2 separate regions of the Homo sapiens genome follow, and region 1 is linked to region 2. The links come from fine-mapping of genetic effects on gene expression. A gene starts in region 2. The other region holds a variant in brackets. All regions are shown on one strand. Distances are between the middles of the regions.

Region 1 (8,968 bases), 110 kb after region 2:
AAATTTGATAGTTTGTATCTCTGGGAAAAATACTTTAACTATTGAAGAAATGAAGTTTAGTATATAGCCTTGCAGTATATCAGGAGTTGGTTCAGATAGAACTTTAGCTTCTCTTACTTAGTTTATTTTCAAAGCTGAGTAGGACATACTATGTAAAAATATAATTATTATATTTTGGGTCTTAAATTTATAAAGTGGACAAAATGTTCTGAAGGACAACTTTGTTGAATATACCTTAAGATTTTGATTTGAAAATATTATTATTTATATACTTCCTTAGACTTTCCAAAAGAGTTGTATCTATGAGTGTAAATGCAAATTCCAGATTTGAGTATATGAAAAATGGAATTCTGTAGTTTGAGTTAAAAAGACAAAACTTATTGAACAGACTGAACTATGATTTTTAATGTACAGCTAGGTCAGTATTTCCGTTCTAGTCTCACATTTTAAGCATTTTTAAAGTTAGCCAATAAAATTTACTTGGCATTGATAATCAAAACAGGAGCAAGAGTTATATAAATCTATTTGGCAATATAGCTTTGAAATGTAATTTTCCTTTCACTACAGAAAGTTGAACTCACTGTGGATTTATATAGACCTTGGATTTATTTATAAGTTTTCTCTGTGTTGGAAGATTTGGGTGGGAGGATAGGGTGAAGGTAGGTTGGTGAATTGTTCACACATGCTAAGTACAGCCCAACTCTTAAATACCAACATGGGGGAGAAGTTCTCCACTGTACAATAAAACACAATATATACTTCATGTAGTACCAGTTTACTTTGTTGTTGTGTACTAAGTGCTATATACTAAAAATTAAGCATATCAAGGCCTAAGAGAAACTTTGACCATATTGGATATGACATGGTTGAAATACATTTCAAATGAATATTTGTTGGAGTTTTTAATCCCTCCTTTGTTCATAGATGTGAGAAGATTTGTGATTAGATATCTGATTTAACTGGATGTATATGTATCCATGAAGATATGGGCACTTTGATTTGAGGTACAGGTATCAGGCTTTGGGCACTATCTACTGAAAATCAGTATTAATCTAAACTAAAATTGAGAATACTGAAATATATATCTTTTGCTTTAGGCAAAATCTGCCCATATTTATTTATATCACTATTTTTGTGGTATTTTCTTCAAATGACAGCATGGTAGGCACTGTCATCTGTAGAATTAAAAAAAAAATTTAAGTTGACAAAATGCCCTCAGTCATTTAACTGTTCAGAGTAGAATCACGATCCTGGTCTCACAGGGTAGACTCCTCTGCACTTAATACGCAGAACGGACTACTGAACTCAGGATGATGTAGGCTCACATTGAAATGATCTTCTGATGGGTGTTGTTGACACAAAGCCAGCAGTTGGAAACTGACAGGCAGTTTACTCTTTTCTTGTTGTTTTCTTCCTTTTATGTGCACACATTAGTGTGAACCGGTTAGCTTAGTTTTCCTCATTAAACTAAATCATTCAGCACCATTAACTCTCCTTTCTCTCTTCCTGACTTCCTTTTACCCTTAGGCCATCCCTAGCCTAGGCTAAGTGCTATAGGAAATACAAAGAATGGTTGCCAAAAATTATTAAATTAAAAAGGATTATCTATCCATGCAAGTTTAACTCCATGTTTCCTTGTTCGATATTTTTACATTGTGTTTAGGTTTTCTGATTCTTTTTTTTTTTTTTTTTCCTGAGATGGAGTCTTTGTTGCCCAGGCTGGAGTGCAGTGGCAAGATCACAGCTCACTGCAGCCTCTGCCTCCTGGATTTAAGCGATTCTCCTGCCTCAGGGCTGGGTGCGGTGGCTCACACCTGTAATCCCAGCTCTTTGGGATTCCCAGGCGGCAGATCACGAGGTCAAGAGATCGAGACCATCCTGGCCAACATGGTGAAACCCCATCTCTACTAAAAATACAAAAATTAGCTGGGCATGGTGGCGTGTGCCTGTAGTCCCAGCTACTTGGGAGGCTGAGGTGGGAGAATCGCTTGAACCCAGGAGGTGGAGGTTGCAGTGAGCCGAGATCACGCCACCGCACTGCAACCTGGCCACTGCACGCCAGCCTGGCGACAGAGCAGGACTTCCTCTCAAAAACAAACAAACAAAAAACAGGGCACTGATTTCTGAATTATATGTCTCCCTATTCAAAGTCTTTTTTTTTTTTTTTGAGACGGCGTCTCGCTCTGTTGCCCAGGCTGGAGTGCAGTGGGTGGATCTCAGCTCACTGCAAGCTCCGCCTCCCAGGTTCATGCCATTCTCCTGCCTCAGCCCCCGAGTAGCTGGGACTACAGGCGCCCGCCACCGCACCCGGCTACGGGGTTTCACCGTGTTAGCCAGGATGGTCTCAATCTACTGACCTTGTGATCCGCCCGCCTCGGCCTCCCAAAGTGCTGGGATTACAGGCGTGAGCCACTGCGCCCGCCCGGCCAACTTATTCAAAGTCTTAATCTGTCCATGTGAATCGAGGTTAAAGCAGTAGCAACAACAACAAAATGCTATCATTAGTAAATGTTTTGTTTATTACTTAGTGTTAACAGAGCTCTCAGAGTGTGCTCTTAGGAAGACACGCACCTCTTAAGGTAGGTGTGTCTTGCTTAGTGAGGTTGAACAAATCACAGTCCAGGCAATCTTCATTCTGCATGATGGCATTGCTGTCTTCATATGGACAGACAAGTAGAATGATGTTGGAAATCATGTATTTAGAATTAGACAGTAATTTAATTTTTTTTTCAGAATGCACAAGGATGTTGTTTCTTGGAGTATAAGAGAATTGAATTTTAGCTTAGAGCCACTTTACTGTGGGAGCAACTTTTTTTAAATTGAAAATTTCTAAGTGTGACCTCTGTTGGCATAGCTGGTATTCTTTGAAAGTAATTAAAATGAAAAGTATTACCAGTCCATATCTTGTGTAAATCTTTTGAGTTAGCATGTTTAGAGGAGGTAGGACTGGTGTCAGAATATTCTGAGAAAGTTAGGGTGGGCCATAATTTCTCAGCTATGCTTTCTGTACTAGAAAACAGGAGAGATTTATGCATAGGAGTGGGATAAGTGGTTTAATAGATTGTTAATAAAATACATATCTGTTTGTTGTTTTTGTTGTTGGTCCTTAGGGTTCAATTCAAACTTGAATATTCCACTTGTCTGGGTGGTACAGTTGTTAGCTTCAGGGAGAAGGTCTGTGACAAGTAGAATTTCACATAAATGCCACCACAGTAACTTTTGAAATACTTGGCATTAGATTTGGGTCAGTTAGTAGGATTTTTAGCTAGGCTGTTCACTTTCACTTTGGAAGGCAAATGCCAGATGTATGTTATTTTCTAGGCAGGTGCTGAATTTGAGTCAGCTAACTTTGCCAGAATCCCCTTAAAGATAAAATAGCAAGTAAAGTCAGGCTGTTTCCATCAAACACCTTATAGTTTTGTTTTTTTTTTAAGCTGAAATTCATACATGTTATTTTGAACCATTTATAACATCTAGATACAAGGGTCTAAATTAAGCATTTATAAAATTATCCATAGCCATGCAATTAAGTTTTTTTTATTTTACTGTGATTCTTTAGCATTAGGATATAGGTATTTCTATTTATTTTGACTTGTATTGCTAGCTTGAGACTCAGTATAATGGGAGAAAACCAGAGAAATTAACAGTAAGCTTTGCAAATTATGATTTTTATCTTAATTCCATGCATTAGGTTGTCTAAGCCTTGTTTGCTATTTCATGAATGATTCATGGATGTCTATAATCAATGGAAATAGGCCGGGCGCGTTGGCTCACACCTGTAATCCCAGCACTTTGAGAGGCCGAGGCAGGCGGATCACGAGGTTAGGAGATCGAGACCATCCTGGCTAACATGGTGAAACCCCGTGTCTACTAAAAATACAAAAAATTAGCCGGGTGTGGTGGCAGGCGCCTGTAGTCCCAGCTATTTGGGAGGCTGAGGCAGGAGAATGGTGTGAACCCAGGAGGCGGAGCTGGTAGTGAGCCGAGAAATCGCGCCACTGCACTCTAGCCTGGGCAACAGAGCGAGACTCCATCTCAAAAAAAAAAAAAAAAAAA[AT/T]CAATGGAAATGTATTTTTTGGCCTAGGCACCATTATATTTTGCCTTCTCATCTACAAAGATTAAAGAGAAAGTAAGAAGTATACGTAGGGGTAGCATTTAGCTGAGGCCTAGGCACCATTATATTTTGCCTTCTCATCTACAAAGATTAAAGAGAAAGTAAGAAGTATACGTAGGGGTAGCATTTAGCTGAGCACAGTGGCGTGTTCTGTAGTCCCAGCTACTCAGGAGCCTTGAGGCAGGAGGATTGCTTGAGCCCAAGAGTTGGAGGCTGTAGTGTGTCCTGATTACCTGTGAATAGCCACTGCACCCCAGCTTGGGCGACATAGCAAGATCCAGTCTCTTAAAGAAAAAAAAAAGTGTGTAGCACTTAATAATGGCCAAGTAGGGAGTCAACATACAGTTTAAATCAATGTAGTCCAATTTTGAGGAGGATCTTTTAACTGCATGCTTCCATGCAAGGTTGCTTTTGTGGTGCCACTGTGTATGGAATTGTTTGTTTTCACTACTTTTTAAAAAGTAGAATTAAGGACTTCCTTTTTTTAAACCAACAGTTTTGGCTTTTTTGGTGCCAGTTACATAAATTTTACAAGCAGAAGTCACACATTAGTGTCAACCTAATGGTCTGGAAATTTGTTAACTATCAGTATGACAGAACCCCAGCATGGTTTTATCATGTTTCCCTGAGAAGTGAAAAGAACTGGGAAAGCAAGGATGTGATAGGCCAGAGTTTCAGTGGAAGGATGAATGGGGAAATTTTTAAGATACCTACCAGTGTTGGATATGAGTACTGAGACTTTTAAATCTTTACCTAGACTATAAAAGACTATCTTTAAAAGAAACAGCTGTGTCATAATTATTGAATTGGTAGCTTATTCTAGAATATAGAGAGTAGTGGCCAGTGAAAACAGTTCATCTCTCAACTTTTCAATTCTTTGTCATTAAAAAGGCTATTTGATCTAGATTACTAATTCTTCCTTTTAAGTGGCGGTTTTATTACAGTCCAGAAAACACTTCTGTTTCCTGGGTTATAAGACAGAGTATGAAAATAGAAGATAGTTTTGAACTCATGTATTTTGAAACTGTATCATGATTACTTACGCTATTATATTTGAATAGAATAGAAATATAAAATTCTTTGACTTAAACATCTATTGGACAAATTGGTTTGATGAGTTTCTTATTAATATAAAACAGTAGATTTTATTTTATTAACTGAGTAGAATTTAGATTTTTTTGTAACTAGATGCTTTGGGAACAGTTAAATTTTTTCTCTAATATAGAGGTTAGATGTTTAATTGTTGCTGCTGCTTCAAAATATTCACAAAATTTCATAAAATCTTTATTGTCTGACACATAAACTATTTGCACTTGTGCGCTGACATATTGCGTATCAAAGTCAGGTTCAAATTTCCTCTTTAAAGTATCTTTTGGAAATAGGAAATGATAGCCTTTTGTAAAATATTGCTGTTATCTTTTAAATGTATTTTTAACATATCCTAAATGCAGAAGCATGTTCCTTTAAACCGTAATGTGTGTGCCCTGTGTTTATCTATTTCCAATATTGTAATTTATTTCTTCCTTTTTTTTTTTTGTTTTTGTTTTGAGACAGGGTTTCGCTCTGTTGCCCAGGCTAGAGTGCAGTGGCGCAATCTCCGCTCACTGCAACCTCTGCCTTCTGGGTTCAAGCGATTCTCCTGCCTCAGCTTCCCCGAGTAGCTGTGACTAAAGGTGCGCACCACCATGCTGGCTAATTTTTTTTGTATTTTTAGTAGAGATGGGGTTTCGCCATTTGGCCAGGCTGGTCTTGAACTCCTAACCTCAGGGGATCTGCCCACCTTGGCCTCCCAAAGTGCTGAGATTACAGGCATGAGCCACACACCGGCCTATTTCCTCCATATTTTTAAAAGGAAAAAAAATAACCCTTCCTCTTTCACATCATAGTGAATAAAAAATTCTTGGAACTGAAAGATCATTTATAATAGCTAGCATGCCTATTGTGCTTATCATGTGCCAAGTAGTGTTCTAAGCCTTTCTCATAGTAATTCACATAATCCTCAAACCTATGATGTAGCTGCTATTATGATCCTATTTTAAAGACGGGTAGACAAAGGCACTGAGAAGTTAAATAACTTGCCCAGTGATTTGCACCTAATTAGCCAGTTAGAGGCCAAATTGGGAATCCAGCCCAATCTGGCATTTGCAGTTTTTGGCTTGTGAAACTTGGTTCTCTTAAAACAAACAAACAAACAAGCAAAAGACGGAGAAAGCCAAAAAAGAATTAACTAGTAATTTTCAAAATAAAGTTTCAGGCTGACTTTGTCATTATAGGTAAGGCTGTGACAAGGCTTAATGCTGTGTATGCCATTTTCTCTACAGTGAGGGTCTGCAGGCTCATATCATTGTGGCTACTAGCTAGACTGAAGTCCATGAAGTTGATAAATTGCCTATTTTATCAGACATGATAATCTGCCATTAATTAACAAAGGAAATGCAGGTTACAGAAATGATATTATGCTGTTTCGTGGCTTCAAATGAGGTTACACAGATAATGCTTTCAATAGGATGTGTGTTTAGCTTTTCTATTAACATGGTTATTTTGTTTTGAAAGATGGAAAAACAGGGCCCAGCCCTACTCCCTTTGATTCGTCTCTTTAAAAATGACTTCACAAGTTTTATTCAGTAAAAAAATTCTTAAAAAGTAATTTAGAATTCCCATAATCAGAAGCCTATATAGGACCTTTTTACGCAAAGTTGAAGAAAGTTTTCAATTCTAAAGCAAATTTCAGCTTTGATTTAGAAAAGAGTACATTCTTTTGTTCCAGCAGTGAAAAGAAAAAAATTTAAAAAAGAGAAAATACTACATTCTAAGAGTGACTAGAGAATCCTTTCAATTACTTTTAAAAACCTAATTAATTAATTAATTAATTAATATATTTTTTGAGACAGGATCTTGCTCTTTCACCCAGGCCGAAGTGCAGTGGTGCAGTCATAGCTCACTGCAGCCTCGACCTCCCGAGCTAGATTGATCCTCCTGCCTCAGTGTCCTGATTAGCTGAGATTACAGGTGTATACCACCACATCCGGCTAATTTTTGTATTTTTTTGTAGAGACAGGATTTAAGCATGTTGGCCAGGCTAGTCTCTAACTCCCGGGCTCAAGTGATCCGCCCATCTCTGCCTCCCTAAATGCTGGGTTTACAAGCATGAGCCACCACACCTGGCCAAAAAACCCTTAATTTATATTGGACAGTTTTTGTTTCATTTTGACTATATTTCAGATTATCATACCTTAACAGACATGGCCTTTTTATTTTATAAAATGTTAAGAAAAATAGGCCATCCTTTCTCTCAGATTTCCCCGGGTTTTGTTTTGTTTTAAATATATATAGGGGAAATTACAGCTGCTCTTTACAATCAATACACAGGGTTTTTGGTTGCTTATGAGTATCTGTGATATAATTAACAGTATTTACCATGAACACAAAAAGAGGTTTTAATTGCTTACTACCTAGAATTTACTTTATTCACAACTGCCGTTTTCTTTTTCTCTTGTCTTTTAAAGCAATTTCTAAGCATACATAGTAAAGATAATTTAATTAATAATGTGAAATATGTTTTTAGTGTTTGAGCAATTCATGCTGTTTCTTAAATCACTGGTTAAATCCACCTTTAAAATTTTATCTTTGAGTATTTATATTGTAGCTCACGGTTAAGTCTCTTGAAAAGTTTGTTTCATTTACTTTCTAGCAAGGGTTTGACCACATCTTTTTAAAACAGAGATGGAAATATATATGTATATTTCCTTTTCCTTTTTCTTGCTCTGTCACCAGACTGGAGTGCAGTGGCACAATCATAGCTCACTGCAACCTTGAACTCCTGGGCAGAGGTGATCCTCCTCCCTCAGTCAACATGCCCAGCTAATTTTTTATTTTTTTGTAGAGACAAGTCTCGTTATGTTGCCCAGGCTGATCTTGAACTCCTGGGCTCAAGTGATCCTCCCACCTCAGCCTCCCAAAGCACTGGGATTACAGGCATGAGCCACTGTACACAGCCTGGAAATATTTTTTATACATTAGAATATAAAGAAGTGCAAATTTAAGAAGGAAACTTTTCTTGCATACCTACATTCTGCTAGGCATAATATGCTTTTTATTTCATCAAATTCTTACCAGTAGCTTGGGAGAGAGAACTTACCCCATTTTTAGCTGAAAACACTAAGGTATAGAGAGATGAATTAAATCATATTGTCAGGTAGGTAGTTCTGGAATTTGAACCTGAAACTATATATTTCCAAAAATCTCTTTCTGATATGACATAGAGCCTCCTCTAGTGATACAAATGGAACTTGTTGATTACATGAAAGCCCTGATTTGTTTTTCATTCCCCATCCAACCGGTAGCATTTTTCAATTTAGTCTGTACTCATTTCTGGAGCAATGATAGTGCATGCAGTAAAGTAGTCATGTTTTAGGTATACAGAAGCAATATATATAGTCCTACCCACATCTTACGGTGTAGTAAGAGAAATGGCAAACATTAAGTTACGTGAATGGGATTACAAAGCAGTGTATCAACAAATGTACAATAATGTAGTAGGCATAGAGTGCAGGAAGGGCAGTGGGCACTGTGCCCATGGCTGTCTGTCTCTCAGTGTTCTTCGCCATGTGCGTATCTTGCTATGAAGGCTACAACCTGCCATCTATTTTAGATCATCACAACAGGAGTAGTTAGAAATGAAACACAGAAATAAGGGGAATCTTGATTAATGGGACTCAAGTGCCAAAAGGTAGGAAAATGACTCTTGGTTATCATCTTAGCTGAAGTATGTGAGCACTTAATGGTGGATGCTGTGTTCTAAACCTTGTCTAACTACATAGTAAATTTATTTGCTAAATGATAGGAACTCATAAC
Region 2 (8,968 bases):
TTTAAAAATTTAATGTTTTGGTCTGGCATGATGGCTTATGCCGTAATCCTAACACTCTGGAAGGCTTAGGTGGGCAGATCACTTCAGCCCCAGCAGTTCAAGATCAGCCTGGGTAAGACGGTGAAACCCCATCTCTACAAAAAAAAAAAAATCCAAAAAAAAAAAAAAAAGCTGGGTGTGGTGGCACACACCTGTATTCCTGACTATTAGGGAGGTCAGGGCTGCAGTGAGCTGTAATTGTGCCACTGCACTCTCCAGCCTGAGTGACAGAGTAAGGTCATGTCACACACACACACAAAAATTAACTTTTTAAGAGACACAGTATTGCTATGTTGCCCACGCTGGTCTACAACTCCTAGGCTCAAGTGATCTTCCCGCCTCAGCTTCCCAAGTAGCTGGAACTACAAGCATGTGCCACTGTGCCCAGTCTATTTCTGTTTTTAGGCCATTGTGAATTTCTATTAGCAATATTTTTTTCTCAATGTAGAGATCATGTGACATCTTTCATTAAATTTATTCCTGAATTTTGATTTTTAAAATGCTTTTGTAAATGGCATTTTAAAATTTTCATTTTCCAGTTGTTTCATGCTAACATACAGAAGAAATACAATTGACCTTGTACCTTGTGATCCTACATTCATTTTAGTAGTTCATGGATTCTTTTGAATTTTGTACGTACACTATATCATCATTAGTGAATAAGTTTGGTTTCACCTCCTTCCAATTCATTTTCTTGTCTTATTGCACTGATAAAATTTGCAGAGATGCCAAATAACTTGCCCAAGTTCACCCAGTTAGTAAGAGCCAAGATTGAAACTCATGTCAATCTCACTCAGAATACCCTGGAATGAGTGTGGGTGTATTAATATTTGTTTTTGCTTGAGAAATAAGGGAGGTATGAATAGAGGGGGAGAAATAAGGGAGGTATGAATAGAGGGGGTATATCAAAGAGGTTCTTAATCTAAGATGAAGGATTTGAATTGTATTCCATAGTTAATGAAGGATCATTAAGTGTTTTCAAGTGGGAAAGTAACAAAATAAGACTGAGGGGATCAATCCTGTGACAGTGTACAGTATGACTTGAAGGGAGCCCATTCATTCATTTATTCATTCTTTTCATGATCATTTATTGAGTATGCATTATGTTCTAGGAGACAGAGTCTTGCTCTGTCACCAGGCTGTAGTGCAGTGGTGCGATCTTGGCTCACTGCAACCTCCGCCTCCCGGTTCAAACAATTCTCCTGCCTCAGCCTCCCAAGTAGCTGGGACTACAGGAGCGCGCCACCACACCCAGCTAATTTTTTTTTTTTTTTGTATTTTTAGTACAGACGGGGTTTCACCATGTTGGCCAGGATGGTCTCAATCTCTTAACCTCGTGATCTGCCTGCCTCGGCCTCCCAAAGTGCTGTGATTACAGGCGTGAGCCACTGCGCCCAGCCAATGTGTTTCTCAGAGTAGTAGAAATACAAGTGATGAAGAGTAGAATCCTAACACAATCTTAGATATGCAGCGAAGGCAGTTCTATGACTTTGCATTAATTTACTTGAAGTCTCTGAAGCTCAGCTTTATTGTACATAAAATGAGAATAATATACATACAATGACTACTTCAGTAAGGAAAAAATTTATGTAATATGCTTGACTTATATTAGACATTTGTTTATTGTAGTTATACTATTTAAGGGATTTAGAAGAGAGCAAACAATAAGAATGAAACATTTCATCACAGTCGTTCAATAATCAAATTGACAAACAAATGTTTTAACTGACGCCCCCACCCTATGATTACATTTTAATAGAATGAACTATAGATTTTTGCTTTGGCAATTTAGGAATGCACCAAAACAGAGATAACTGTGCTACATATTAGCTGACATAATAATATTCCCTTACATCTGTATAAAGAGCTTGATAGTTAACAAAGTACATTTATTTACACCATTTTGAGTCTTGCAACAATTACACAGATGAGGAAATTGCGATATTTAGTGACTTGTTTGAGGTCACACAGTAACTTACAGAGACCACTTCACATCATATTTATTTGCTTATATTCTATAGCTCTTTTTTACCATACTGTTACCTCTAATCTCATGATGTATGCTAGTAGTATTAACTCAAAAATAGTATAGAATCTCCCACTTTTATGCAGTTTACTTATGAAAAAAGTGAGTACTTTGAAAACTGTGGAAGAAAAGGCAGACAAAAATAGAAATTCTTGTCTTGTAGCAGTCATATTGTTCTGATTATTCCTAGGTTATATTGTTAAATATATAATTTGTCATTTTCTTTACTTTTCCATGCTGCATTTATGATTCTGCTGACATTTTTGGTGTTTCCTTGCCTCATCCATTCACGGTATGTTATTTCTACTTCCACTAAATTTCAATAATTTCCTTCCCCTTTATGATCTGCACCCACATATTTTTTCCTTGTTGTTCTCTCTTGGTAATATACCTAGTTCCTATATCTTTGCCTTCTTTTTTCTTTCCTTCTTCTTCCTTTCTTAATTTGTGTCATTGAGCCAACTTATTTACCGCCTCCTCTACCTTTTCATTTTACATTATCATAGTGATGATTCACTAAAAATTATGGCTAGTTTTAATAAACAATTGTTCTGAGGTCTCATGGGAATCAAAGTTCTTTCTAAGTATGGAAGATGTTTTTTATAAACATGTTTTATGAGCAAGGGATTGGAAGATGAGGTGGGGAAGAGGACATGAGGATCGGAATAGATACTATTATTTATATTTCACAAATTCAATGAAACAACAAACATCATACATTCCTTGTTAGGTGCTATAGCATGTACAAACAAGAACAAGACTAGGTCTTGGGCTCTGTTGCACTTACAATCTAGTGAAAGAGAAAGACAAACATATAAACAACTCTAGTGCAAGACAGACTACTGTTACAGCAAGAGCCTGAAGTTCAGAGGGCACCCAGAGATTGTACCAGAGCGCGTTTAAGTCACACAATTCAATTCAAGCTCAGGCAATTGAGTAGCACTTGGGCATGGAACTCATCTACTATGCTGTCAGACGTTTTTGTTTATTTCTTGTAAGAAAAAGTCTTCAGCCGTCGTAAGACGTTTTATTGGGTAATACGGGAATGCAATGGGGGGAGTCATTTGTTTGCAGAGGTATCATGGGTAGTTTTAAAAAGTGTGAAATCTACGATTGCAGAGGACTGATAGACTCTGGACTTCTGCCAAAATGGGAGGGATAGCAAGCAAGAAGGAGAATCTTTTTTTTAAATTTTTATTTATTTATTTATTTATTATCACAACTCCTGATAACTCACAGTTGGGGGTGAGGACAGGAAAGCAAATCGGGAGTTCAGAATTGTGACAAACCTCAGGTGACTACTACCCCATTGTAGACAAGCTACAGACTGGTATTAGCAGAAGATAGGCCATAAACAAACTCTCCATTTCCTCTCAACGCTTTGGGAACATAATTCTATTATTCCAGCTAGCTAAAAAAAAAAAAAAAAAAAAAAAAAAAAAACCTTTAAAAATATACATTAATACATAGTCAATGCAAACATTTCAAACATTAGATAGGTGTGCAAAATAAAAAGTGGAAGTGCCTCATCACCCACTTCTTACACTCCCCAGCGCTAACATTTGTTGTTATAGGCTTCCAAGCATTTTCTATCCACAAACAAACACAGACACACACACCCCACACATTTTTTTTATTCTTTTCCCAAATAAAATTGGCGGTACACCCACAAATTTTAGGATGAAGACATGTTTAAAAGCATGGGCTTTGGAGCTCACCAGAACTGGGCTCACATCCTCTCCAACTACTGGCTGTGACCCTGGGCAAATTACTTTAAGCTTCAATTTTTTGTGTGAAGTGAAAAGCGGCAATGACTTCGGAAGGTTTGAGGATTAAGGCCTATAGCATATATACATCACCTAGCACAGTCAGATTCACAGTAAGTGTTCAATAAACACTCTTATTGTCTACCGCAAGTGACCTTTCTCATTATAAGATTAAAATCAGGGAATATGTTCCTCTCATAGTTTGATAACTGCCATTAAACAAAAGTTTTTTTTTTCAACTAATTACCGTATAAGTTGGAAAAAAAACTTGCTTTTCCAAAGCGTAAAACAGATTGGTCTAAGTAACACTTAAATGGGGGTTCTCGCATTTTCAGTGCCAATCTCCTACGTCCCCTCAGTACTTTGTTCACGGATGTCTAGAGAATGGACTTTCCAATACAAACTTATGATTTCATGATGTGCCGAAAATTCTCAACCAGGTTAAGTTTCACACTCTGTGTGCAGCATTTGCTTTATCCCGCAATTGCCGGGTGGTGCCCCTTCCAGCTCCCACAGTCGCGCCTCTCCATCCCCTCTGGAGCTAGGACTGCAATGGGAGAAGCCTCTCCCTGTTGGAGCCGTAGGGGACTTGACGGATGCGGGGCGCCTCCGGGGAGCAGCGGCAGGACCGGGAGTTGGGTAGGGTGAGGTGCGCCCGAGGGGGTGCAGGGTGCTGGCCGAAGGGTCCGGCCGGACGGGCGCGAGGGTCCTCTGCTGGCGACCCTGGAACTCGGCTCTCCCCGATCTTCGTCCTGGGGCACCGTCCCTGCCGTCTGCAGCCCCCAGGCCCCACTGCCTCTAACTCAGCGGCCCAGGCCCGTCCCAGTCGCTAGTTTTCTTTTTGGCATTGCCCTTTGCCCTCCCATGCAGTCCTCTGTTGACTCTCTCTTCAGTTCCAGTCACCTCTAGGTCACCCTCCCTCTACCACAGTCACCCATTTTGTCCCCTGTCCCCTTACTCTTCTTCACCTCTCCCCGGGCCGCCTTCTCAGAGGACTCTGCCGACGGAGATGCTGCGGACCCCGCGGCCAGGGGCTGCTCCCCGGACAACCCTGCGTCCACCTTTGCCCCTTCCTCGGGGGCGCGAGAGGCAAGTTTCCGCCCCGTCCTTTTCCCGGTGACAGGACTTGGCGGCGGCCACTGCCGGGGAGGCAGAGGGAGGGACGGCCTGGCTCCCGAGCCCCCTCCCCTGCTCGCGAGCTCGCGCTGTCTGTCTCTCCGCAAGTGCGGAGACGCGGAGGAGGAGGAGGAGGAGGAGGAGGAGGAGGGAGTTGGGGGAGGATCTCCATTGAAATAAACAACCAGGCAGCAGTTATTAACACGGGAACATGGCGGCCGCAGCCTCGGCTACAGCTTCGGCGGCGAAGGTCAGCGCCGACGGCAGCCGGCACCTGACGGCGTGACCGACCCGAGCCGGTAACCGCGCCTTCCCCCGGGGCCGCGAGGGCGGGCGGGGGGCGGGCGGCAGGCGGGGGGCGCCGCGTCCCCACCCCCGGCCGCGACTGCCCTTCCTGCGCCGAGCTCCGACAGAGCCGTGCGCCTCCGAGAGGCTGTTTTTGTGTGCGGGGACCGCCGCCGGAGTGCGCGGAAAACGGGAGTTGCATCCCGGAGGCGCAGCGACGCTGGGGAGTTGGGGCTTGGGGGTGGGGAGGGCGGGAAGCGACGGGGAGACGCGGAGTCCCCGGGAGAGAAAGGAGGCGCTCCAGCGCCTTGCGAGAGCTCAGGAGACGAGTCCCGGAGCGCGAGGCGGGCGGAGGCTGCAGCCCGCGGCGCGGGCGAGAGGTGAGCGCCGAGGCGCGGCCGGGGGTGCGGGCGCGGCCCCCGCCCCGAGGAGCGAGTGCCCATTGCCCAGCCCGGTGCGGGGTCGGCGGAGACCGAGGCTCTAACCCCTCGGGGGCAGCGCGGCAGAGCCGAGAAGGTGAATCCTGGGAAGGTGCATTCTTTAATGGAAGCGCGGAGCGGCTGCAGCGGAGAGTGGGAGCCGGGCGAGGGGAGGCAGGACTCGGGAAGTGCTGGGGGTGTGTGAAGGTGAAGCGGGGTGTCGGGGCGGCCGGCGAGCTGCAGCGCGGGGCGGGGAAGGGGAGCCGCGGCCCGGCGGGTGGCCCGGGCCCGTGTCAGCCCCGGGGGTGGGGGGCGAGGGGCGCCGAGCACCGCGGGCGGACGGGAAGGAGCTGCGGCGGGCGGGGCGGGCGGCGCGCTGGGGCCGAGCAGGCCGGGCCGTGGTGGGGGCGGGGAGCCGGGGGCCGGGCCCCGGCGGCGCCGAGCCGGGCTCGCCCCTGACTGAACTTTCTGGGTGCGGGCGTGTATGCAGGAGGCGCGCTGGGGCCGGGGCCGGGGGCGGGAGGCGGACCGGGAGGTTCCGGGTTGGCTCGCCAGCGCCCCCTTTTCTCGCCCCCTTCTCTCCGCCCCTGAAGGGACAGGCCCTCGGGGCCCCAGGCGGGAAGCGGGAGGGGCCCTGTGGCCGCCTCGCGACGGTCACGCCCCGGGCACGGGGACCCGGCCCTCTCGGGCCCCTGGGGGGTGCTGGGGGAGGGGGCCGGGGTCGTCGCTGCCGGCTGCGCTCCCCGCCTCCTCCCCTCGGGGGAGTCCCAGAGGCGCCTCTTCCGAGACCGGGGGTGGGTCGGTCCCTGGTTAGATGGCCCCTCCCTCTTCCCCTCCCTCTAGTGGTTTCCGGGGCCTGCGGGACCGAGGGGCGGGAATCGGGGACTGGAGCCCCCTTCCGCTGGCCCGGAGCTGGACTGGGCCTCCCGCGTTCTGGGTCCGTCACTGGTAGGGGAAACTTTCCCAAACCAGAGACCGAGCCTGAACACCTTCCTCCGCCACCTCGTCCTCTAATCCCACTCCCTCTCCACCTCCTCCGACGCCTTCCCCTCCCACCGACCCGAATCTCGGTGCGTCTGACTGATGGGGCAGTGAGCCAATCGAAGGCAGGGAGCTGACCTGCCGGGTGTCGGTGAGCCAATCGTGCGGACCGGAGGAAGGAAGGGGGCGGGGTTTCTCCTGACCAGTTAGAGCAGAGTTGCATGCGGGGCGGGGGAGTCATGGAGACGCTGAGAGCCAGCTACTCTTGTCCATCCCCGAGTCACCCGCTCCTTGATTTCTGGGGTTGTGTCACTTATAGGGGCTCCGACCCGCAGAGGCTGCCGAGGCACTCGAGGTCCTGTATGTCTTTCGTACCGAAATAGACGTTGTCTTAGACACGACGAAGTCTAAAGCCACTTTAGGATGTGGCAGTAACTCACCGAGGCCGGTTTCTAAAATGGCATATGCTGTAGTGATCATGTCCTGGACCTCAGCGTCCGGTTTACATGCTAAGGGTCACAGAAGACAGAAGTTACCCGTTTACCTCTTATCTCGGTTTCACTCAGCTATGCCAGAATGGGGACAATGAAATTTGAAAGGGAACCCTGAGAATGAAGGCATGGGAGCAGTATCACGTCAACTGATTATTGGTAGTAGAAAGCATCATTGTTCATAATGGCTTCACTGGTTTCTTGTTTAATTAGAGCTCCAGTTCCCAAAGTGTACTTGAAACTTCGGCATTGGGGATGTCATTAAAAAAAAAAGTTGTGGTTTATGGTATGCATTTTTTTTTCTTTTTGCAAACAAAATGAAGTTGGGAACTAAAGCATCACTGATTGAAACATTAAGTGTGGGTATTTAAGGAGCAAAGCTAATCAAAGAATATTTGTCTACAGGAAAAAGTCTGAGTAAAATGTAGTTTGCCAGATTACTCCCACACAAAAGATTCTTAAAAATAATTTTAATTTTCTTAAACACTGCTGAATTGTACAGTGTGTGGGTACTTTTCTGGTTTATACAAGGTTTGGAGACATCTTTGGTTTTAACTGTTTATTGCGCGTTCAGTCAAGTGACTTTCTCAACTCTTGACTTTTAGGAACAGAGGTCTTTGATTCTCTGTAAAGATCACAGGTTGCTCTGCAGGAATAGCAGTCTTTTAAAAAGAAAGCAGCTGCTACAAAGCATGTGTGTGTGCGCGTGTGTGTGTGTGTATGTGTGTGTGTGTTCCTGTTCTTTGTTGGTGAGGTTAGGCACACTGACAGAAGTAATGCTCCCTTTCTCACCTGGAATTTGTAGAATCTTTGGGAGCTCAAAGAATGAAAAGTGTTAGATTAAGAATGAATTCATTGATTTTTGTCATAAGTATCCCATGAATTTAATTTTGGGAGTGTTTTCTTTTAGGTATCTTATGTGGAAAATGTGTATCTTTTCTATAAGTCAAGCTTTTATTAATCTTGGGTTGCTAAGAAAGAATCGAAGGGGACTGCAGTTCTAGGGAACAGTATTTGCCAAATCTTACAAATGTGTTCTGTTGTAATATAGTGTTTTCAAATTTACCATGAGAATTCCCAATTCAGGATCATTTTGGGTGCATGTAGACAAGAATTAATTGCATTTTGCTGTGGCTCTTGAGATGTTTTTTGTAATAAAATAGTAAAAACAGAGAAGGTAAACCAAACACTTAGACTGACAGAGAGGTAAGGAGTATTAAAAACAACATTCAAAATTTGACAACATTCAAAACCCCCCACCATTTGTTAATTTAGTTACTTATGGGCACTCTGACATATGCCCTTCTCTCTTTTGTATGCTGAAGAGCAACACATTATTTTACTTAATTCTTTGCAACAATCCTTGAAAATGTGGTAAGATTCTTGGTGGCAGAGAGAACCAAGTCTCCTAATGGCTGGCTTGGGGGGAAAAAAACCTCTCAAGCATATGGAGACATCTAGAAAAAGATGTGCATCGTCAGCTGTGATTCCATTGTGTGCTCTCAGACTGGATCTGAGCTTCCTTCCTCCTGGGAATTTCAGTCTTAAACAGAGGAGTTCTTTGACTTTTAGATGTCAGTATACTGAAGCAGGAGGGTAGAAAAGGAGCTCACCAATTACGGATTTATTATGTTTTGAGTAGTTAATATGTTTTGGATTTTAACCCTTCATTGGTTAAATATAATTTAGATGAGTGGCTTAGTGTTAGAAGAGCATTTTATTGGAAATATAAAATGTAAGGCTTGGAGGGGGATTTGGGCTGTGGATAAAGGGGTAATGCTCCTTAGTTGTCTTTATTTATAGTTGTATCTTATTAAAGCTTTCCAAGCTTCAGTAACATCAAGG

Alleles and levels. Positions count from the first base shown, and alleles are read on the strand shown. Sizes are in standard deviations (SD) of each study's normalised expression.
With allele T in place of AT in region 1, the expression in Th1/17 cells of the gene that starts at base 5,138 in region 2 is lower (moderate effect, 0.59 SD a copy in Schmiedel 2018).

Evidence for each region. PIP is the estimated chance that this variant, and not a neighbour inherited with it, causes the effect. A credible set is the group of variants that fine-mapping cannot tell apart.
Region 1: its variant is the best candidate, but not a certain one, in a credible set for the expression of NCOA2 in Th1/17 cells (Schmiedel 2018, PIP 0.53).

What each region holds. Positions count from the first base shown.
Region 1 is chr8:70,285,274-70,294,241 of GRCh38, reverse strand. All of the region lies in intron 2 of NCOA2 (nuclear receptor coactivator 2), which reads left to right. Among named protein-coding and RNA genes, the nearest start is that of NCOA2, 110 kb to the left of the region's middle. RefSeq lists an enhancer at 2,010-2,750. The variant AT/T (reference allele first, on the strand shown) is at 4,057.
Region 2 is chr8:70,399,978-70,408,945 of GRCh38, reverse strand. NCOA2 (nuclear receptor coactivator 2) reads left to right here and starts at 5,138. Exons shown (of 23, transcript NM_006540.4): 1 at 5,138-5,246. RefSeq lists silencers at 4,362-4,521, 5,212-5,521, 5,562-5,851, 5,882-6,541 and an enhancer at 4,622-4,741.